Linked DNA regions of Homo sapiens: region 1 is linked to region 2. Evidence: fine-mapped expression QTL. A gene starts in region 2. The other region holds a variant in brackets. All regions are shown on one strand. Distances are from middle to middle.

Region 1 (9,040 bases), 510 kb after region 2:
GGGCACTGCAATGGCTGGTGTTACTGAGCCCTCGCGGCATGCCAGGCACTGCTCATTCGTGTTTTACACCATTTCGGAATCCTTTGAGGAAGTTATTTCTATTATCACAATCCCCATTTTACAGGAGGGGAAAGTGAGGTTAAGGGAGACAATGGGATAGGCATGAGGTCATCCAGTAAATGGCAGAGCCAGGATTCGAACCCACACTCTTGTGACCTCAGAGCCCAAGCTCTTAACTATGCCTTCCACAGACACAATCCATGCACCTTAGGATTTTTACCTGAGGTTCTTAGTTTGGTTTGGGGGACCAAAGGAACAAGTAAACAAGCAGAAAATGATGAGGAAGGGCTGTGCTGTGTGCCCAAGCGAGGAAGCAAAAGGATGGGCATGAACAATTTGTAGATGCCATCCAGAACAGAGTGGTCAAGGATTTGGAGGCTCAGTGCAGGGGGAGAAGTGGGAAGGGCTTGTGCTGTACACATGAGGGTTAGGAACTGATGAAGCCACCTCCCCAAGCCTCAGATTTTCCATCTGAAAAATGGAAACAGGATTCATCTCCTTAATTGTGACTATCAAGTGTAATAACGTTGGTAAAGAGCTTAGCACAGGCTTGGCACATGGTAGGACTCCATAAATAGACACTGCAATTATTCGTTCTGTGGTTACTGCATGACGATGATGATAACAATAATAATTACTATTATTATTAAGCAGGAACTGTTTTAGGTGCTGGGAAACCAAAAGGAAAAAACTCCATCCCCAGCCCCTAGGAGCCTGTAGTCTAGTGAAGGAGATAAACTTGTGAACAGATAATTCCTATCTAACTGCTTGCTTCCTTTTCTATGCACTCATGGTACTGCCTGGTGTGATGGTTCATGCCTGTAATCCCAGCACTTTGGGAGGGCATGGCAGAAGGATTGCTTAAGCCCAGGAGTTCAATACCAACCTGGGCAACATAACGAGATCCTATCTCAATTTTTAAATAAATAAATAAAATAAAATTTCATACAAGGCTAGGAAAGTGACTCATGCCTGTAATAAATACCAGCACTTTGGGAAGCTGAGGTGGGAGGATTGTTTGAGCTAAGGAGTTTGAGACCAGCCTGGGCCACGCAGTGAGACCTTGTCTCTACAACAACAACAACAAAAATTTAAAAATCAGCCAGACATGATGGCACATGCCTGTAGTCCCGACTGCTTGGGAGGTTGAGGTGGGAGGATCACTTGAGCCCAGGAGGTCAAGGCTGCAATGAACTATGATGGCACCACTGCATTCCAGCCTGGGCGACAGAGCGAGACTCCGTCTCAAAATAATAATAATAATAATAATAATAAAAGTGTGGTACATAATAAGTATTCAGCAGATACTTTCAAATGAGTAACCATCAGTGCTTATTTTTAAATGTAATATGATGTGTGCAACACAAGAGTTGAACCCAGCCTAGAGCTCAGCTAATCGTAGCTCACCAAGCTTAGCTCCATTCTACAAGCTGGTGCAGGTTTGCCCTACCTGCTTTTCTTTCTCCTGGGAGCAATGTGCTGCCCCACAGCATGGTTTTCTCCTGGCAGTATTAGAAGTACAAAATCGCAAGCCCAGCTCTATAAGCATATTTTAAGCATCTGCTCATTTGTCCCATTGACCCCAAGGTAAGTCACATGACCAAGCCCAAGATCAGTGGGGCAGATAAATATATTCTATCTCCAGCCAGAGAGGCTGCAAGGTGGCATGGCCAAGTGCACGGGTGTGGAAAGGGTGAAGAATTGGAAACAGTTATGCCTCTTTCACAGTGAAGTTTGGAGGGGGAGTAGGCCCTAGCCACAAATGTCTGCCCCTTGGCCTGGCAGATGTCCTGTTTTCCAGGAGTCCAGCCAGGCTGTGGCACAGTGCCGACCCCCTGACTCTTGTCCGAGGGTCTGTGCCAACCACCCGGACTCCTAAAGTCCGGCTGTGGCTGTAGAGTTGAATATTGGCTGAAGCCAGGCTGCCTTTTATTGAGTCTGCCTCCGCCTCATTATTTACATAGACTGTAAAATAAAGCTTAACTCAAAATTACCGTAAGTCAGCGCATCCGAGTGAAGCCGGCAGCTGGACCTTCACAACTGAAAGCAGACTAAATAAAAGGGGGAGGATGAAAAAAGAAGAGCTGCAAATAAGATGTCAGGGAATGCTTAATTATATAAAGGTTATGCATTTGCCTGCATAATTGTCCAAAGCAACTGATGGCAACAGCTGGCAGAGAAGCTGGTCTTCAGCTCTATTTGTGTTTATCTGGTGCCTGTCACCGTAATAGCTACAAGAAGTATTGATCACAAATTAATTTGGCCTCATTCCTTCTCCTTTTTGTCTCTACCCTTATCAGTCTCACTTCCCCTACTAAAATAGGAAGGCTATTGAATACATGGAGAAAACTTGGAGTTTGTGGAGGCTGAGGCTACCAAGTATCATGGAAGCAATATACTATATGCCAGGCACTAGCATAGGTAGCATTTGTAACTGACTTTTTTAATAAAACAACCCTATAAGGTAGGTATTCTTATTCCTGTTTTACATATAAGGGTAGTGAGACCCAGAGAGATGAACTCATTTGACAAAAGTCACACAGCTTGGGGTAGCCTGGTGATTCCCTTAACCACGGCTCTCCCAACTGGGCTCTGCAAGGTGGGTATTTTGGGAGTTTTTTCACTGCACCTGGAGTGAAATCTGAACCCTTTACCACAGACTACATACCCTGTATGTTCTAACTGGTCTTCAAGCACATCTTCTCCTGGTATCCTCCACCTTGTCCGGCACGCTAGTCTCCTTTTCCTTTCTTTTTTTTTTTTTTTCTTGGAGACAGAGTCTCACTCTGTCGCCCAGGCTGGAGTGCAGTGGCATGATCTTGGCTCACTGCAACCTCTGCCACCTGGGTTCAAGCAATTCTCATGCCTCAGACTCCCGAGTAGCTGGGATTACAGGCTTGTGCCACCATGCCCAGCTAATTTTGGTATTTTTAGTAGAGACGGGGTTTCGCCATGTTGGTCAGGCTGGTCTTGATCTCCTGGCCTCAAGTGATCTGCCTGCCTTGACCTCCTCATTTCCATTTCTTAGACATGCCAAGCTCTTTCCTGTTTAAGGGTCTTTGCAGGTGCTGTTACCTCTGCCTAGAACTGTGTTCCTGCAAGGTCACCCGTTCTACCTTAGCTGTTTCCCTCCTCACCCTTAGTATTATTGTTCACAGTGTCCAGAGTGTTTGTTCCAGGGCAGTTATCATACTTATCAGTTGTGCCTTTATGATTGTGGGTCTGCACTCTGATCTGTGCATTCCATGTAAGCAGGGATCATACTTGTTTCATTCACTTATGTGTACCTAGATCCTGGTACACAGAGGCAGTAGAGTGCATTAGAGCATGGTCTCTGAAAGCAACTTCCCGGGTTCAAATTCCAGCTCTGCCACTTATTGTCGACTATGTGACTTTTAGGCGGATGACTTTCTCTTTCTGTCCTCGTTTTCTCTGCCTGTAAAATAGGAATAATGATATTGTTGTGTAGAATGAATTAAGACATAAAAATGCTTTGTACAGTGCCTAATACGCAGCAAGCAGTACATGTTTCACTGCTGTTAGTCATCATGATTAAAATCATTAGCACATAGTAGATAGTCAATGTTTGTTGAATGGATGAATGAATTTCTAATCGCAGAAGGGTAAACAGGCCTCAGCTGGTCGATGGGGTGAGTTTGTAAGCTCAGTGTGAGACTGCTCCATCTGAGATGACACGGTGATCAAAGGGTTGTTCTTTAAGGTGTGCTGATCTCCACTACTCGGCACCCAACTGCCCAAACAGTGCTGTAAGGTGAACAGATTTGGGAGACCACTTTTTGTGATTCCGTAAGTTATTTTGGTGGAGGTGGACAGAGTTTTGGTGGTGGAGAATGGTGTCTTCTTGCTCCTGCAGTGCACAAGATGTTTTCAAGCCACATGGAGGGTGTGGCTGGTAGGCTCTATGGTCCTGTTCCGTCCCCTCCCATAACCCCCTCAACCTGATCTGCTGCAAAAGGCTACCCCCCTTGGAAGGCAGCTGATAGAGAAGCTGTAGGCTTATGCTGGGACCCCACCAGGGACAAATGAGGCCGATTTGGAGACACTGTGGAACCAGGAAGTCAGTCTGCACATTGTGATCTGCGCCTGCGATGCTCCTCCCCACCCTTCACGTACAGTGCTGTTTGGAGGGCTCAGTCCTGCTTTCTGCTCTCCTCTTGCCTTTGGTTCTCCTTTGGCAGGATCCCGCAGGAAGCGTTAGAACCCCACCACTGCTCCCGATGCCTTGCTTCTGTCTGCTGCTGGTCCCCGCTGCCTGCACTGCCCGCCCCCTCATCACCTATCTCTGCTGGCCTCTCAAGGGCACTGCATTGTCCTTCAGTTCCTGGGCGTGAATCTGCTCATCAGGCACCATTTACCTTCTCCAGCCCTGTGCCCTGTTCCTAAATCAAGGCTTACACCCACCAAGAGCAGGGTTTCTTTTATCCCACTGTAATCACTCCTAATGTAATCAATATGCTCAGATCTCTTATTGGAGAGAGTAAGTTATCACCAAGACCCCTGCCAGCCCCATTTCAGCCAATTCCAGCATGCAGGGAAGAGGTTGAGGATTGGCCTTCGGTGTGGTCAGGGTCGGGAGGCTGGTCCCCAGAAGAAGCCAGTTGTTGGCTGTGCCTTTGGGGCAGCGGAGTCTGGAGCCCGGATCATCCATCAGGGCTATCAGCCTTGTTTGGGTTTTTCAGTGGAAGCTCATTCAC[G/A]TATGCAATAATGGGATGCTGGGTGGTCTAAGTTGCCTTTTGATTTTTAGTCTCCGGGAACTCCAGTGTTCCTGGTGTTATTTGGTATGTCTGTGGCTTTAATTTCCTTTTTAATTTCTGTTGAAAGGAAGAAAGAACTCTGTGGAGTTATAATCTGCAGAGAACCTATGTTGTAAGACCAGTGGGTGTCCTGAATGGCTAAGTAATTAGAACATGCATAATCACCCAGAGTTAAACCCACTGCCGAGCAAGTGCATCCTGTGAACTCGACTGTGTAAACAAAATTGTGCAGAATCAGCCCAAAAGGAAAATTCAACAAATGTGAGCAGTGGTCATCCCTGGTGGTGGATTGTAGAGAATTTAATGTCTGGTTTTGCCCATTTTTCAGTTTTTTACACTGAGCACATTACTGTTGTGTTTTGAAAGAAAGACACGCATTAAAAAATAACCAACACCTGTATTCTTGTCAACACTTGATCTTGCAATCTTAATATAGAAGACTGCAAAAAAATGACTGTTAGAAGCTAAAGATACAGGTTTAAGGAATGTCTTTACTTTATTGTTTATATAATGAAATATTAATATAATAAAACTACAGATTTGCATATGGAATTGGGGTTAAACAGAGGTTTGAAGGATTATCAATTATGAATAGTTTATGGTGAAAGTTACACAATAAAACAGTACTGAGAGGAAGGTGTTTTTCACTTATATATTTGAATTTATATAGTACATGCTGTTTAATCCTGGCTGGTTCCTTAAATCTCACTTTGTCTCAGTTTCACCATCTGTAAAATTGGGGTACTAGCCTGTTAGGTTATTTTTAGGAAGATGTGATTAATATTTGTGAAATTCTTAGAACAGGATTGGAACATAGTAGGTACTCAAGAAATGCTTGATGCTGCTGGGTTAGTCTTATTGTTGTGATACAGAGGCTTTGACAACAGTTTTTGCTCCTACATCAGAAGTAACAGTAGGTAAAGCTATAATGTTAGTTAACCTGAGTAGACTTCTTACCATGTCTGAGCCACCATGCTAAGTTTTTTATTTAGGTTATGTCATTTGCTCCTCAAATCTGCTTCATATCAGTTTAGGATGTAAGGGCTCAGAGAGGTTAAGTGACCTGCCCAAGATCACACAGCTTGTAAGAATTTGATTCCAAAGCTCATGCTCTGAATCACTGTTTTATTACCTAGTATTGTATTTTTTGTTCTTCTGCAGGTACCCAAAATATGCACTTGCCTTTACTTTCCCTGGGTCAAAGGTCCACCAGTTGAGGTGTTTTAATGCCCTTCCAAAGATATATGTTGGGAATTTCTCCAGCTGTTTCCCCAAAGCAGCCTCCTCCTGGTGGATGTACACCGAGGAGGCAGGAGCTACCCCACACTCACTGATCTGAGGCATCAGGTGGCCGGGAGGTTCATAACTCAACTGTTGCGTATTGATGGCAGAGTTGTTTTTACATATATATATATATATATGTATATGACATGTAGGCAATTAAACTTAGAATGGGAACTGAAAGATGAAGAATTAATTCCCTGTTTGTTTGTAATACTGTGTGTAGGCAAACAATTAATCAGCATCTGTATAAATACCCTCCCCATAGGGGTCTGGCCCAGGGACAGGGAGCTCCTCTGCCTCCTGCTAGCTGGAGAATATTGGTCCATCTCACGCATTTAACCGCAATTTCTTCTGCCCAGCCTTGTGCTGGATGCTTCAACAAGTGAAGCTTACCAAACCACCATGCACAGATGCTCCCCCTGGGACTCGTGGGTAGAGATGCCAGAGGGTGCCATCATAAAGGACTGTAGAAGCCCGTGCACCTGGGAAATTGGACTTTATCTCGAGAGCAGTGGGGAGCCCAAAGGGCAGAACTACAATCCAGTTTTTAATCAGAAAAACCACTCTAGGCTGGGCACGGTGATTCATGCCTGTAATCCCAACACTTTGGGAGGCTGAAGTGGGTAGATTGCCTGAGGTCGGGACTTCAAGACCAGCTTGGGCAACATGGTGAAACCCCATCTCTACTAAAAATACAAAAATTAGCCTGGTGTGGTGATAGGCACCTGTAGTCTCAGCTACTCAGGTGGCTGAGTCAGGAGAATCGCTTGAACCCAGGAGGCTGAGGTTGCAGTGAGTGGAGATCACATTACTGCACTCCAGCCTGGGTAAGAGAGTGAGACTGTGTCTCAAGGAAAAAAAAAAAAAAGAGAGAAAAGAAAAATCACCCTAGCATCGGTGGAACAGTGATGGGCAGAGGCCAAGGTTAGTAGAGAGACACTGGCTGGGATGCTACCTTTGTAGTCTACATGAGGGATGGTGGTGGCTTTCCCTGTGAGATGGAGGGAAATGGACAAAGTCAAGAGATGTCAGGGAAGTAGAAGTACAGGTCTCAATACTAGATTTGATGTTTGGGGAGTAGAGAGGAATAATGATGAGGGAACCAGCCCCTGCCTCCAGCTCGAGAGATTTAATAGACCTTCCCAGATAGAAATGTCCCGGTCATTGTGTGGGAAGGTTAATTTAGAAGAGCATATGGCATTTGTTCTCTGCCTGCTTCTGAGAAGAACACTATTAGCCCTTTTCTAAGTCCTTTCTAAAACAAAAACAAAACCCAAAGGATTTGGCTTGCAACTGTCGATGGCAGAGGCTGCTGCAAGCAGGACTTGGTGTTTTGCTGATTCGAACATTGAGCAGAGGTATGTGGTCTGGGATTCCCTGTGAAATCAGCCCCAGAGCCTTCATCTCCAATAGCCTGTGCCAACCTAGAAGGCCAATATGAAAGTTGAACGAGGAACTAGGAATGGTCCTGTCCCAGAGTCCCTTCAGAGGAGGTGAGCCAGTATCAAATCCGACCTTGCTGGGACCCCAAGGGATGTTCTGCACTCAGATTTTATAAATCGTCCTTTGTGCCAGGTCCCTTCCCGGGAGCCACAGGCATGACTTAGGTTGTTGCGTGGATTCCCTTACCTAGGGCATAGAGAGGCCATGCAATTGATCATTGCTCTGAGGCAGTCAGAAAATGTGGAAGGAGGCATCCCAGCTGAAACATCTGCCCTAAGCCTCCTTCTTGGCCCTAAAACCTGCCTGGAATGTTCACCACCCCCAACACTCTCCCCAATCCACCCACCTCCTCTGGGTCTTTGCTCAGTGAGACCTTCCCTGACCACCCTCTATCAAACTGCATCTTTTCCCTTCCCTGCTATATTTTTCTCTGTAGTATTTATCACCACTGGGTGTACACTGTCCTTACATTCATTCTTGTTGTTTGCTAGTCTCCCTCTGTAAGATAAAAGCTCCAGGAGGGAACTTCCGTGTTTTGTTTGTTGTTCATTGCAGTATCCTCAGCCCCCATAGTGGTGCCTGGAACTCAGGAGGGGCTCAGTCAATATTTGTTGAATGGATAGTAATAGTAATGGCTAGCTTTTATCAGCTGAGACCCTATGCTTACAGTTCACTGAAGAGTTGAGAGACAGGCATTGAACAGGCAATTTCAAGTGTGATGATTCGTGTAAGGAAAAGTGTAGGACACGATAGTAGCACGGTGGGCTTCCCTGAGGAAGGGGCATTTGGCTGAGACCTGAAGGGTGATAAGACCCTGAAGAGAAGAGTCTTCCCGGTGGAGGGAGCAGCATTTGTGAGGGCATAAGGTAAAGAGAATGGGGCTGACGGGATAGAACTCACAAATGAAGTGTGCAGAGGCTTGTCTGGATGTGTCCACGGGGGCTGGAAGGGGCTGGATTTTAGAAAAAGTATTAAGATCCCAGCCTTGATCCTCAGGACAGCGTGAGGCCATCAAAAGGTTCGGAAGGAAGTTTGGAGGGCAGAAGGCTGGAGGGAATGCTTCCTTGCCCAGATGAAGCCTGAATGACTCGCAGGGCTGGGGCAAGCTGCCGCCAGTTTTATCCACAAAGCAGCAACCACTTCTGCTAAGATAGTGATGACTCCGAGCCCCTCCAGCTCCCCTGTTCTCCTCAACCCTGGTCTGAGCGCCTGCTTTGTGCGAGTCATTCAGGCTTCATCAAGGCACTATGTTAATGTTAGGTCCTTCTTACAGATCAGCCCACGTAGTCCTCACAGCAGCTGGTTGAGGAGCTATTATCATCATCCCCACTTGGCAGTGGTAGGTAGAGGCTGAGGCTGAGAGAGTTGCCCAGGTTCACTCTACTGGAAGGAGCCAGCTCTGGAATCTGGAATTCAGCCCCAGGCCTCTCTCAGTCCAAGTCCAGTGCGCACTATCTCTTTCATGGACTGCCTCCCAT
Region 2 (8,901 bases):
AGATGATAGATAGATAGATAGATAGATAGATAGATAGATAGATAGAGATATCTATCTATCTATCTACATATAGAGAGAGAGAGACAGAGAGAGAGAGGTTGGGAGGTCCAGGATCAAGGTGCCAGAAGACTGGGTGTCTAGTGGGGCTACTCTTCCTTGCTCATAGGCAGCGGTATTCTTTCTGGGTCCTCACATGATGAAAACAGAGCTGGAGAGCTTACTGGGGTCTCTTTTATAAGGACACTAATCTCATTTATGAGGGCTCTACCCTCATGATTTGATCACCTCCCAAAGGCCCTACCTCCTAATGCCACCATATTGGGAGTTATGATCTCAACATATTAATTTATGGTGCAAGGAGGAACACAAACATTCAGTCCGTAACAGAGATACATACATAATAAAATTATAGCCCAGGGGGTTAGAAAACTCCCCAGGGTCAAAGAGTAGTGGCCAATGTAGGAGTCATACCACTTCCATGGAATATTATACTCATCTCTGACATCTTTTGTCCCCTCTCTTCCTTTTTGTAGAAGCACGTGGAAGGGTACATTTGGACGCCTCTGTCTTTTCCAGGGGCTTATAACTCAGGAGATCCAGAAAAGGTCAGGATTGAAGGAGGCAGACTAGTGAGAGGAAGCCAGAAGCTGTCTGCCCGAGGCTGGCTGGAGGCTCTGGGCATTTAACAAGAGTTACACTGGGAACCTTGGTAGAAGCCAGGTGGTCCAGCTCCATGGGGAAGAAATATTGCAAAATTATCAGGAAAGACACCATTTCAGGCATAAAGCAGGTGCATTGAGCTGGAACACCACTTGTATTAGGTCTCTCAAGACCAAGTGAGACTTGGTGGAGGACAGCAACAAGAGAAGGAAGACATCCCCATCTGAGCACTGAAACAGTGAAATAGAAAGGAAATAGAAAGGAAAAAGAACAACAACAGCTATACTATAGTGAACACTTAGATGCTCTTTTAAGCACTTTAAATATAAGCACTAATTTAATCATCACAATAATCTATAAGATTTGTTCCTATTACTAGTAATCATGAGATATTGTATATTGTTATAATTTTTGTTAGTAATACTAGTAATACTGTTCTTATTGCATTTTACAGATATATACACTGAGGCACAAAGGGGTTAAGTAACTTACCCGAAGTCACATGCCTGGTAAGTGGCAGGACTGGGTTTTAATGAGACAATCTGGCTTGACAGTTCACACTCTTAACCATTTCACTTGGGAACAAACCCCAGAGAACACATGAAACCAAAATTTCATCTCAGTTGAATCTATTTTGATTTAATGTAATAATTTCTGCACCTGACATTTCCCTAGCAGTTTATAATTTACAAAAGGTTTGGTCCCCATCATTTTGGAATCGCAGCCCTGCCACTTCCTTGCTGCATGACCTCATTCCACTGATTGGCTAAGCTTCCACTTCCCCATCTGTAAAGTGGGTATAATAATACTTTTGGGGGGGTTTCATGAGATAAAGCACATGCAGGGTTTAGCTCCACACCGAGCCCATAATAAGAGTTCAATAAGTGTTTGCTGCCACTGATGCTGTGGTTATTATTAATATTTCACTTGAGCTGCATGACAACCCTGTGAGTTAGGAAGGATTTATTAACTTATTTCTCAGGTTCTGAAACTGAAACTCACAGAAAGTAAATAACTAGAACAAGGAACAAGCCAGAAAGTGCTAATGCCAGACTTGGAAAATATTCCAATTCCAAGCCTCCTCCCCTGCTTCCAACCCTCAACTCCACCTCCTCTCTTTCCCCCAGGAGGCACCATTACATGAACCAGATCATTCTTCAAACAGGACTGTGGAAAAGTTTGAAGATATTGGAAGTTCAGGCTCAGGGATAAATTCTAAGGAGTATTAAGAAAGTCATAAAAGTGCAAATGGATTTCTCATCCCCAAGCAACTGCCAGAGGGCAGAAGTGACTGAGGTGATTAACTATGCTACCCCACAGAGCCAAAGTGGTTTGGCCACAGGTGGCAGGGGAGTGTCCTCAGTCCAGAAAATAAAGGAGAATGGGAGTATTTTCATCTAACAGCTAAACAGAGGCATGTTTTTAAACCCTGTCTCAAATAATCAAATACCATTCCAAAACTGCATTCCACTTTGAGGAAGGGGCAGTGTTTGTTCCTTTGGTTTTCTGTATTTCTGCATTTCAATTAATTTGTTAAAGTTTAACAAATTAATGCATCCTGTTCTGGTACATGATGCATTCAGTCCTATGGCTATAGGCAAAGGGCTGCTCAATGATAAAATTAGTCCATCTTATGAGGTGTACGATCTTAGTCAATTTATTTAAGTCTGGGTTTTTTTCATCAGTACCAGCAATATGGTTAGGAGATTCCAGGATTTCTAGTCTCTGGATTTGAAGCCAGCCCTCCCAGAATTAAAATCATGTGCTTCCCCTCACATCTATCATGCAAAACCCTCACCAATATTTTTTCTTTTTCAAATGAGTGGAAGTTCTTATTTTGTATTCTTTAATCAGCTGAACAATAACTCACAACCGTTGGACAAAATTGTTTTGCATTATTTAGTAGTAAGGTATTTAATTTAAAAAAACTTGATACATGCTACTTGCATCTCATTAGCATTCTAACGATGTATTCAGCAAATTGTTGTTGAACACACACTAAGTGCCAGGCATTGTGCCCAGGCAGCCATAAAACAATGGACAAGACAGACTCCCCAGGAAGTTTACAATGGTAGTTACTTACAGCTTTTGTTAGCAGCCAAAAAGACAGAGACCCCAACTACTTTGGATTTCTCCATATCCCCTAGGACATAGCTTGGTACACAGTAGACATTTAATAGTCTTCCGAATTTAACTTCAACAATTAATCATCCAGTTAAAAATGTCTACTTTTCTCCAATTAGATGATACTCTACTTATGCCCACTAGGTGGCGATCTTGCTTATAGTTTGCCCACGCTGAAAGAGGCTGCCTTTCAAATAAATACATATATATCCCAGTAGAAGTTAAACCAAAAGACAAAAAAATTAAATTTATTGAGTGCTTATTTAGTGTAATATACTATGTTAGGTGGTATAAGAAATAAAAAAATAAGACATAGTCCCTGCCTGCTAGGGAAAGATGAGGAGGGGCTTACATAGGCCAAAAAAATAAGACCTTTGAATGGATTAATATATTTCGATGCAACCATATGGGAGCCATAGTAATCTCATTATCAGATAAGAGTTATAAAATGGCATGGTATAGCCACCATGTGGTTGGGAACAGATTCAACAGTTCATCCAGTATGTACTTAACCACACCAGTGAAAACACTTGACTGTATCCTGGGTCAGTGCTGCAATACTCCAAATGTGGTTTTTTGATGCCTCTGCTCAGCCATAAACATAAGAGTGTCTGCTTTATCACCCTGGAACGCTCTATCACCCTAGAACGTTTTTTCTTTGGAGAATAAAACATAATCAGTGCCAACTGATGAGGTAGTCCAGTTGAAAACCCCCATGTGCACCTGATGGGAAGATGAAAGGAGAGAAAAGATACACACCATGTAAGGAAACAGATTTCAAACTCTGGCCTTTGAGAGGTGGATTCCACCATGCCCCTGATCTTGTGTCTACCCTGGGAATCTCAGTGTGGATCTGGGACTCATTCTGATACAGAGAGGTAAGGGAGGGCCGACTGGCATCCAAGTTTTCCTGGTAAATGTAACCCAGAGGTGGCTGGAAGATGTGTTGGGGTGAAGAGGTTGTTCATTTTGTTTTCTTTGCTCCTTCACCACCTCCCTCCCCCACCACCACCACCATTTCTTTTTCCCTTAAATCGTAAAAGCAGTAAATCAAATGCAGTATGGGATTGAGGTTTTTTTCCTTTCCATTTGAAAAATCCTTTTAATTGAAAAATCACATTTGGGGAACAAAGTGGTCAAATGACAGTGAATTTCAAACTTGAGAATGCTGACTTGATTAAAAAAAAAATACTGATCTTTCTTAATGGAGGGAAAATCAAGTGCATGCGGCCAGGAGACCTGAGTTTGACTTTTAGCTTCGCCCCTTGCTAATTGTGCAATCCTGAGCAACACCCATCCCTTCTCTGTGCCTCAGTTTCCTCATGGACAAAACGGTATCATTTCTTTCGAAAAGTCGTCCCTGACTCCCCTCTCCCCAACACGAGGTTGGATGGCTATAATCTCTCTTAGCAACCTGAGAGTCCCACTGGAATGTAAATTTCAGCAGCACTGGGACCCGGATCTGTGGATTTTGCTTCTGGTAAGCAGAACCAGAACTGAGGGGCAGTCGCTGTGTTGAATGGATGCATGAATGAATGGGAGATGGCCTAGGTGTTCAAGGGGCACGTGCACAGCGAGGCTTCATTCCCTGGGAGTCCGTTGGGAAAGGCAGAGCGGCCAATACTGATTGGTGCTGATGTGCGAGCTCGGAAAAGGGAGTGTCGGTTCAAAGTTGTTGGCTACAGCGGGTTCCTCTTTCCGCTGGAATCACATCCTCTGTGGCTCGGAGACATTCCCAGAGATTTACATAAAGCAGCGTGAATCACCCAGACAGAAACTGAGAAAGCAAAGGGACCCTGCCTGATCCTAGCCTGGCGGAGCTCGGAAAGAGGTGGAAATCTGTCTGAAGTTTGCAGGAGACCCGCGCTGCCTAGGCAAAGGGACCCGGCGACCAAGACACCCCCGCGAGGGCCCAGGGCGCGTCCCTCCCGCCAGGCCCCAGACTCCGGCTCTGCGCCACCCCCTCCTACGCCCCGGCGCGGGCGCAGCCAGTCCGGCTTCCTCCAGGCCCCCAAGTCCCGGACCGAGTGTGGGGCCGCCTCTCCCTCTCGGAAGGAGCCATCGCCGCTTTAAGTGGAAGAGGAGAGGAAGGGGGCGGGGGAGCGGGGGGCGGGGAGCGGAGGCGGAGGAGGGGGAGGGGGATCCCCCTGGCTCCCACGTGGTCCGGGCGCCTGTGAATCGCGCCCACCGGAGGGTCTCACAGCGAAATACAAAAGCAGCTGGGAAGCGGCGGGGACTCGAGTTCCCAGCGCCGGGCGGAGCGCCGGACAGAGCCCCGCAGCGCCCCGCGGCCGCGATGGGGCCGAAGCGCCCGAAGCCCCGGAGCCCACAAACTGCCGGGCCCGCCTCGCCGCCGGGACCCGGGTGCCTGGGCTCGGCTTGAAGCGGCGGCGGCGCACCGGCACAGCCGCGGGAGCATGGGCAGGAGGATGCGGGGCGCCGCCGCCACCGCGGGGCTCTGGCTGCTGGCGCTGGGCTCGCTGCTGGCGCTGTGGGGAGGGCTCCTGCCGCCGCGGACCGAGCTGCCCGCCTCCCGGCCGCCCGAAGACCGACTCCCACGGCGCCCGGCCCGGAGCGGCGGCCCCGCGCCCGCGCCTCGCTTCCCTCTGCCCCCGCCCCTGGCGTGGGACGCCCGCGGCGGCTCCCTGAAAACTTTCCGGGCGCTGCTCACCCTGGCGGCCGGCGCGGACGGCCCGCCCCGGCAGTCCCGGAGCGAGCCCAGGTGGCACGTGTCAGCCAGGCAGCCCCGGCCGGAGGAGAGCGCCGCGGTGCACGGGGGCGTCTTCTGGAGCCGCGGCCTGGAGGAGCAGGTGCCCCCGGGCTTTTCGGAGGCCCAGGCGGCGGCGTGGCTGGAGGCGGCTCGCGGCGCCCGGATGGTGGCCCTGGAGCGCGGGGGTTGCGGGCGCAGCTCCAACCGACTGGCCCGTTTTGCCGACGGCACCCGCGCCTGCGTGCGCTACGGCATCAACCCGGAGCAGATTCAGGGCGAGGCCCTGTCTTACTATCTGGCGCGCCTGCTGGGCCTCCAGCGCCACGTGCCGCCGCTGGCACTGGCTCGGGTGGAGGCTCGGGGCGCGCAGTGGGCGCAGGTGCAGGAGGAGCTGCGCGCTGCGCACTGGACCGAGGGCAGCGTGGTGAGCCTGACACGCTGGCTGCCCAACCTCACGGACGTGGTGGTGCCCGCGCCCTGGCGCTCGGAGGACGGCCGTCTGCGCCCCCTCCGGGATGCCGGGGGTGAGCTGGCCAACCTCAGCCAGGCGGAGCTGGTGGACCTAGTACAATGGACCGACTTAATCCTTTTCGACTACCTGACGGCCAACTTCGACCGGCTCGTAAGCAACCTCTTCAGCCTGCAGTGGGACCCGCGCGTCATGCAGCGTGCCACCAGCAACCTGCACCGCGGTCCGGGCGGGGCGCTGGTCTTTCTGGACAATGAGGCGGGCTTGGTGCACGGCTACCGGGTAGCAGGCATGTGGGACAAGTATAACGAGCCGCTGTTGCAGTCAGTGTGCGTGTTCCGCGAGCGGACCGCGCGGCGCGTCCTGGAGCTGCACCGCGGACAGGACGCCGCGGCCCGGCTGCTGCGCCTCTACCGGCGCCACGAGCCTCGCTTCCCCGAGCTGGCCGCCCTTGCAGACCCCCACGCTCAGCTGCTACAGCGCCGCCTCGACTTCCTCGCCAAGCACATTTTGCACTGTAAGGCCAAGTACGGCCGCCGGTCTGGGACTTAGTGTCACCGGGAGGAAAAGAGAGAGATCTGGGGCTGGGGTATGGATGATGGGGGGAAGGGCGGTCGCCTCTGCCACTGTCAGGGACCAGCCGGCCAACGCCCACCCGCAAAGGTGTCTAAAAACTTCAGCTTTTCACCCACCTGCCCCTTTCTTTCAATCCCACGCTGTTTCCTTTCAAAGTTCTGGGAGGACGAACTCACCGAGGCGAGAAGTGTAACATTCTCTCCACCCAGCTTATAAAAGGATTCTTTACTGTGCCAGCACGGGGATTGGATCCGAAGAAACTGGCTACTGGGGTTTGGCCCCCGAGTGGCCGTCCCTGTGGGAGATGCACCCCATTCTTGGGCCCCCCCTCATTCCCTTTCCGAAAAAGGAAAACTTGCGTTTGAGCCGTTGAGCTAATTCTGCAATTTTCTACCAAACAGAGCGCTGGTGGCCCCGGAGCAGGGCTGTGACATTGGCTGGTGGAGCCCCCTTCCTGTGTTCTCCCTTTGTTCCAGCGCCGCGATGGTGAGATCACTGTTCCAAGCAGGGGGACGGCTCGCGATAGGACAAAGAGAGCAGGACCTCCAGACTCTGGGGAGCCCTGCAGACCTTGACAATTTGCCTGACTCATTCCTGACCTCTTGTCATTTTGGCCTGAAGGCTACAAATTCAGGGTCAGCTGTATGCACTAAGTCAAATAATGAATTTCTTCCTCCCTCTCGCAACCGACCAAAATTTTGACAACGATGATGTTCACCAGAAGGAAAAAAAAAAATCAGTTTTATGCACTTTATTTTGTTTTGATTTTCATTTTTTATTAAGAAAAAATTTTATTTTACAGAATTTACCTTCTCTGTATATATGTGCATAAAGTGTGGTGTAAATATACTAAACAAACTTATATTTCAATAAAAGGGAGTTTAAAATTTATAATTTAATTCCTGTGGTTTTAACTTGTTTGATGTTTCTGATGCCCCATCTGCTTTCAGAATAAGATTTAGGTTTTCTTTCTTGTGGATGTGTTTTTAAAACAAAGGATGCATATCCATTCCAGTTGTGACTACGGAACTTACAGAATTGAACAAAGATAAGAGCAGACTCCCTGTCCTCACTCAGATGAACCTTGGTGCTGGAAATTTGAGTTTAGCCTAAAATGTGGGGGAAGATGGGGAGAGAGATGGGAGGAAAGTGTTCTATTTCCTGGCAAATAAAACTTCGATGTGAAAGGATTTCACTGTAGTATATTCCTATATTAATCATTTGGCAAATATGATAGAATCAGATGTGGGGACTAAAATATGACAAACACCCCCTTTTTAAACTTAACTACCGTGATCACATGTTGCAAATTATTATCAGCGTTGTAATTACAGTGCATCACAATGTGTACAGATGATAAGCTGAGCCCACATTGGGAGCAGGTAGAGAAAGTCATAAATTAATTCTTCTCTTAAATCTCCTGGCATAAATTCCAATGGATTCAGAAGATCATAATCTCCAACATCTGGAGTCATCCAGTTCTCTGAAGAGGTTGTACTGTTTTCTGGGTACTAAGTGCATGGTCCCCTCAGAGCAGCCAGCGTGAGACCATGAAGGCGTACAGTGCTTTGTGTATGACATTTGGACCCTTTCTAGGACTTCAAACAAATTATTTTTGGATTTTTATCTCAAGAGGAAGAGCTTGATTTGTATTTTACGGCCCTTGGTGTTTTATTTTGGCATTTTCTTTGGTATCTGGGCCCAAGTGATCTTGCCTGTTACCTTCTTTTTATTTAATGACCTTTAACTCAAATCAACTTTTGGTTGCAACTTTAATAGTTTTTTATTTGACTTGCATTTGTAAACCTAGGGTTTTATAGACTCAGGAAGCTATTAAATCTCTGGGGGTTCCCCTTCTCACTCTGCATTACAACATAGTGTGTAATTTAACTATTTAATGTCATCCTTATGTTTTCAGTGCCTTTTGCTAAGCCAAATCTTATCTCAGCCTTAAAAAAAAAATAGTCCATAAACTCTCTGTGGTGTAAGTCAAGTGTTTGCACAGTACAGCCATAGAATGTACTGATAATCGGAAATTTATCTTTTTTCAAGACATTGTTAATGGGATACCTCTCATAATTACACCTTTCAGAAAGAAACATTTTCCATTTCTGGTGATTATTTCACTATTAGATTTGCTGCTTTAGTTAATGGAGGCTGTTCCAAGAACAGGACAAGTATTCAGCAACCTGCATTTTTACCCAACATATTCATGGAGGAAAACAATGAGCAGTAATAAGTTAGAAGTTTCACAGATTGCACAGGAAATACATCCTGGATCCCATGAAGATTCAGCACTGGTGAGTTCTGGGCCAGCAGCATTCTCTACATTCTTTCTAAACTTCAGTTCCAAGCCCAGACT

Direction of the effects. Positions count from the first base shown, and alleles are read on the strand shown. Sizes are in standard deviations (SD) of each study's normalised expression.
With allele G in place of A in region 1, the expression in cerebellum of the gene that starts at base 5,025 in region 2 is lower (moderate effect, 0.41 SD a copy in GTEx).

The links.
Region 1: its variant is fine-mapped to the expression of FJX1 in cerebellum (GTEx, PIP 0.93).

What each region holds. Positions count from the first base shown.
Region 1 is chr11:36,121,880-36,130,919 of GRCh38, forward strand. All of the region lies in intron 4 of LDLRAD3 (low density lipoprotein receptor class A domain containing 3), which reads left to right. Among named protein-coding and RNA genes, the nearest start is that of MIR3973, 120 kb to the left of the region's middle. RefSeq lists an enhancer at 1,981-2,150. The variant G/A (reference allele first, on the strand shown) is at 4,776.
Region 2 is chr11:35,613,436-35,622,336 of GRCh38, forward strand. It overlaps FJX1 (four-jointed box kinase 1), which reads left to right and starts at 5,025. Exons shown (of 1, transcript NM_014344.4): 1 at 5,025-7,430. The coding sequence starts at 5,202. The coding sequence ends at 6,515. RefSeq lists silencers at 4,613-4,702, 4,733-5,062, 4,884-5,045, 5,143-5,212, 5,233-5,492 and 1 more and enhancers at 5,345-5,979, 5,980-6,614.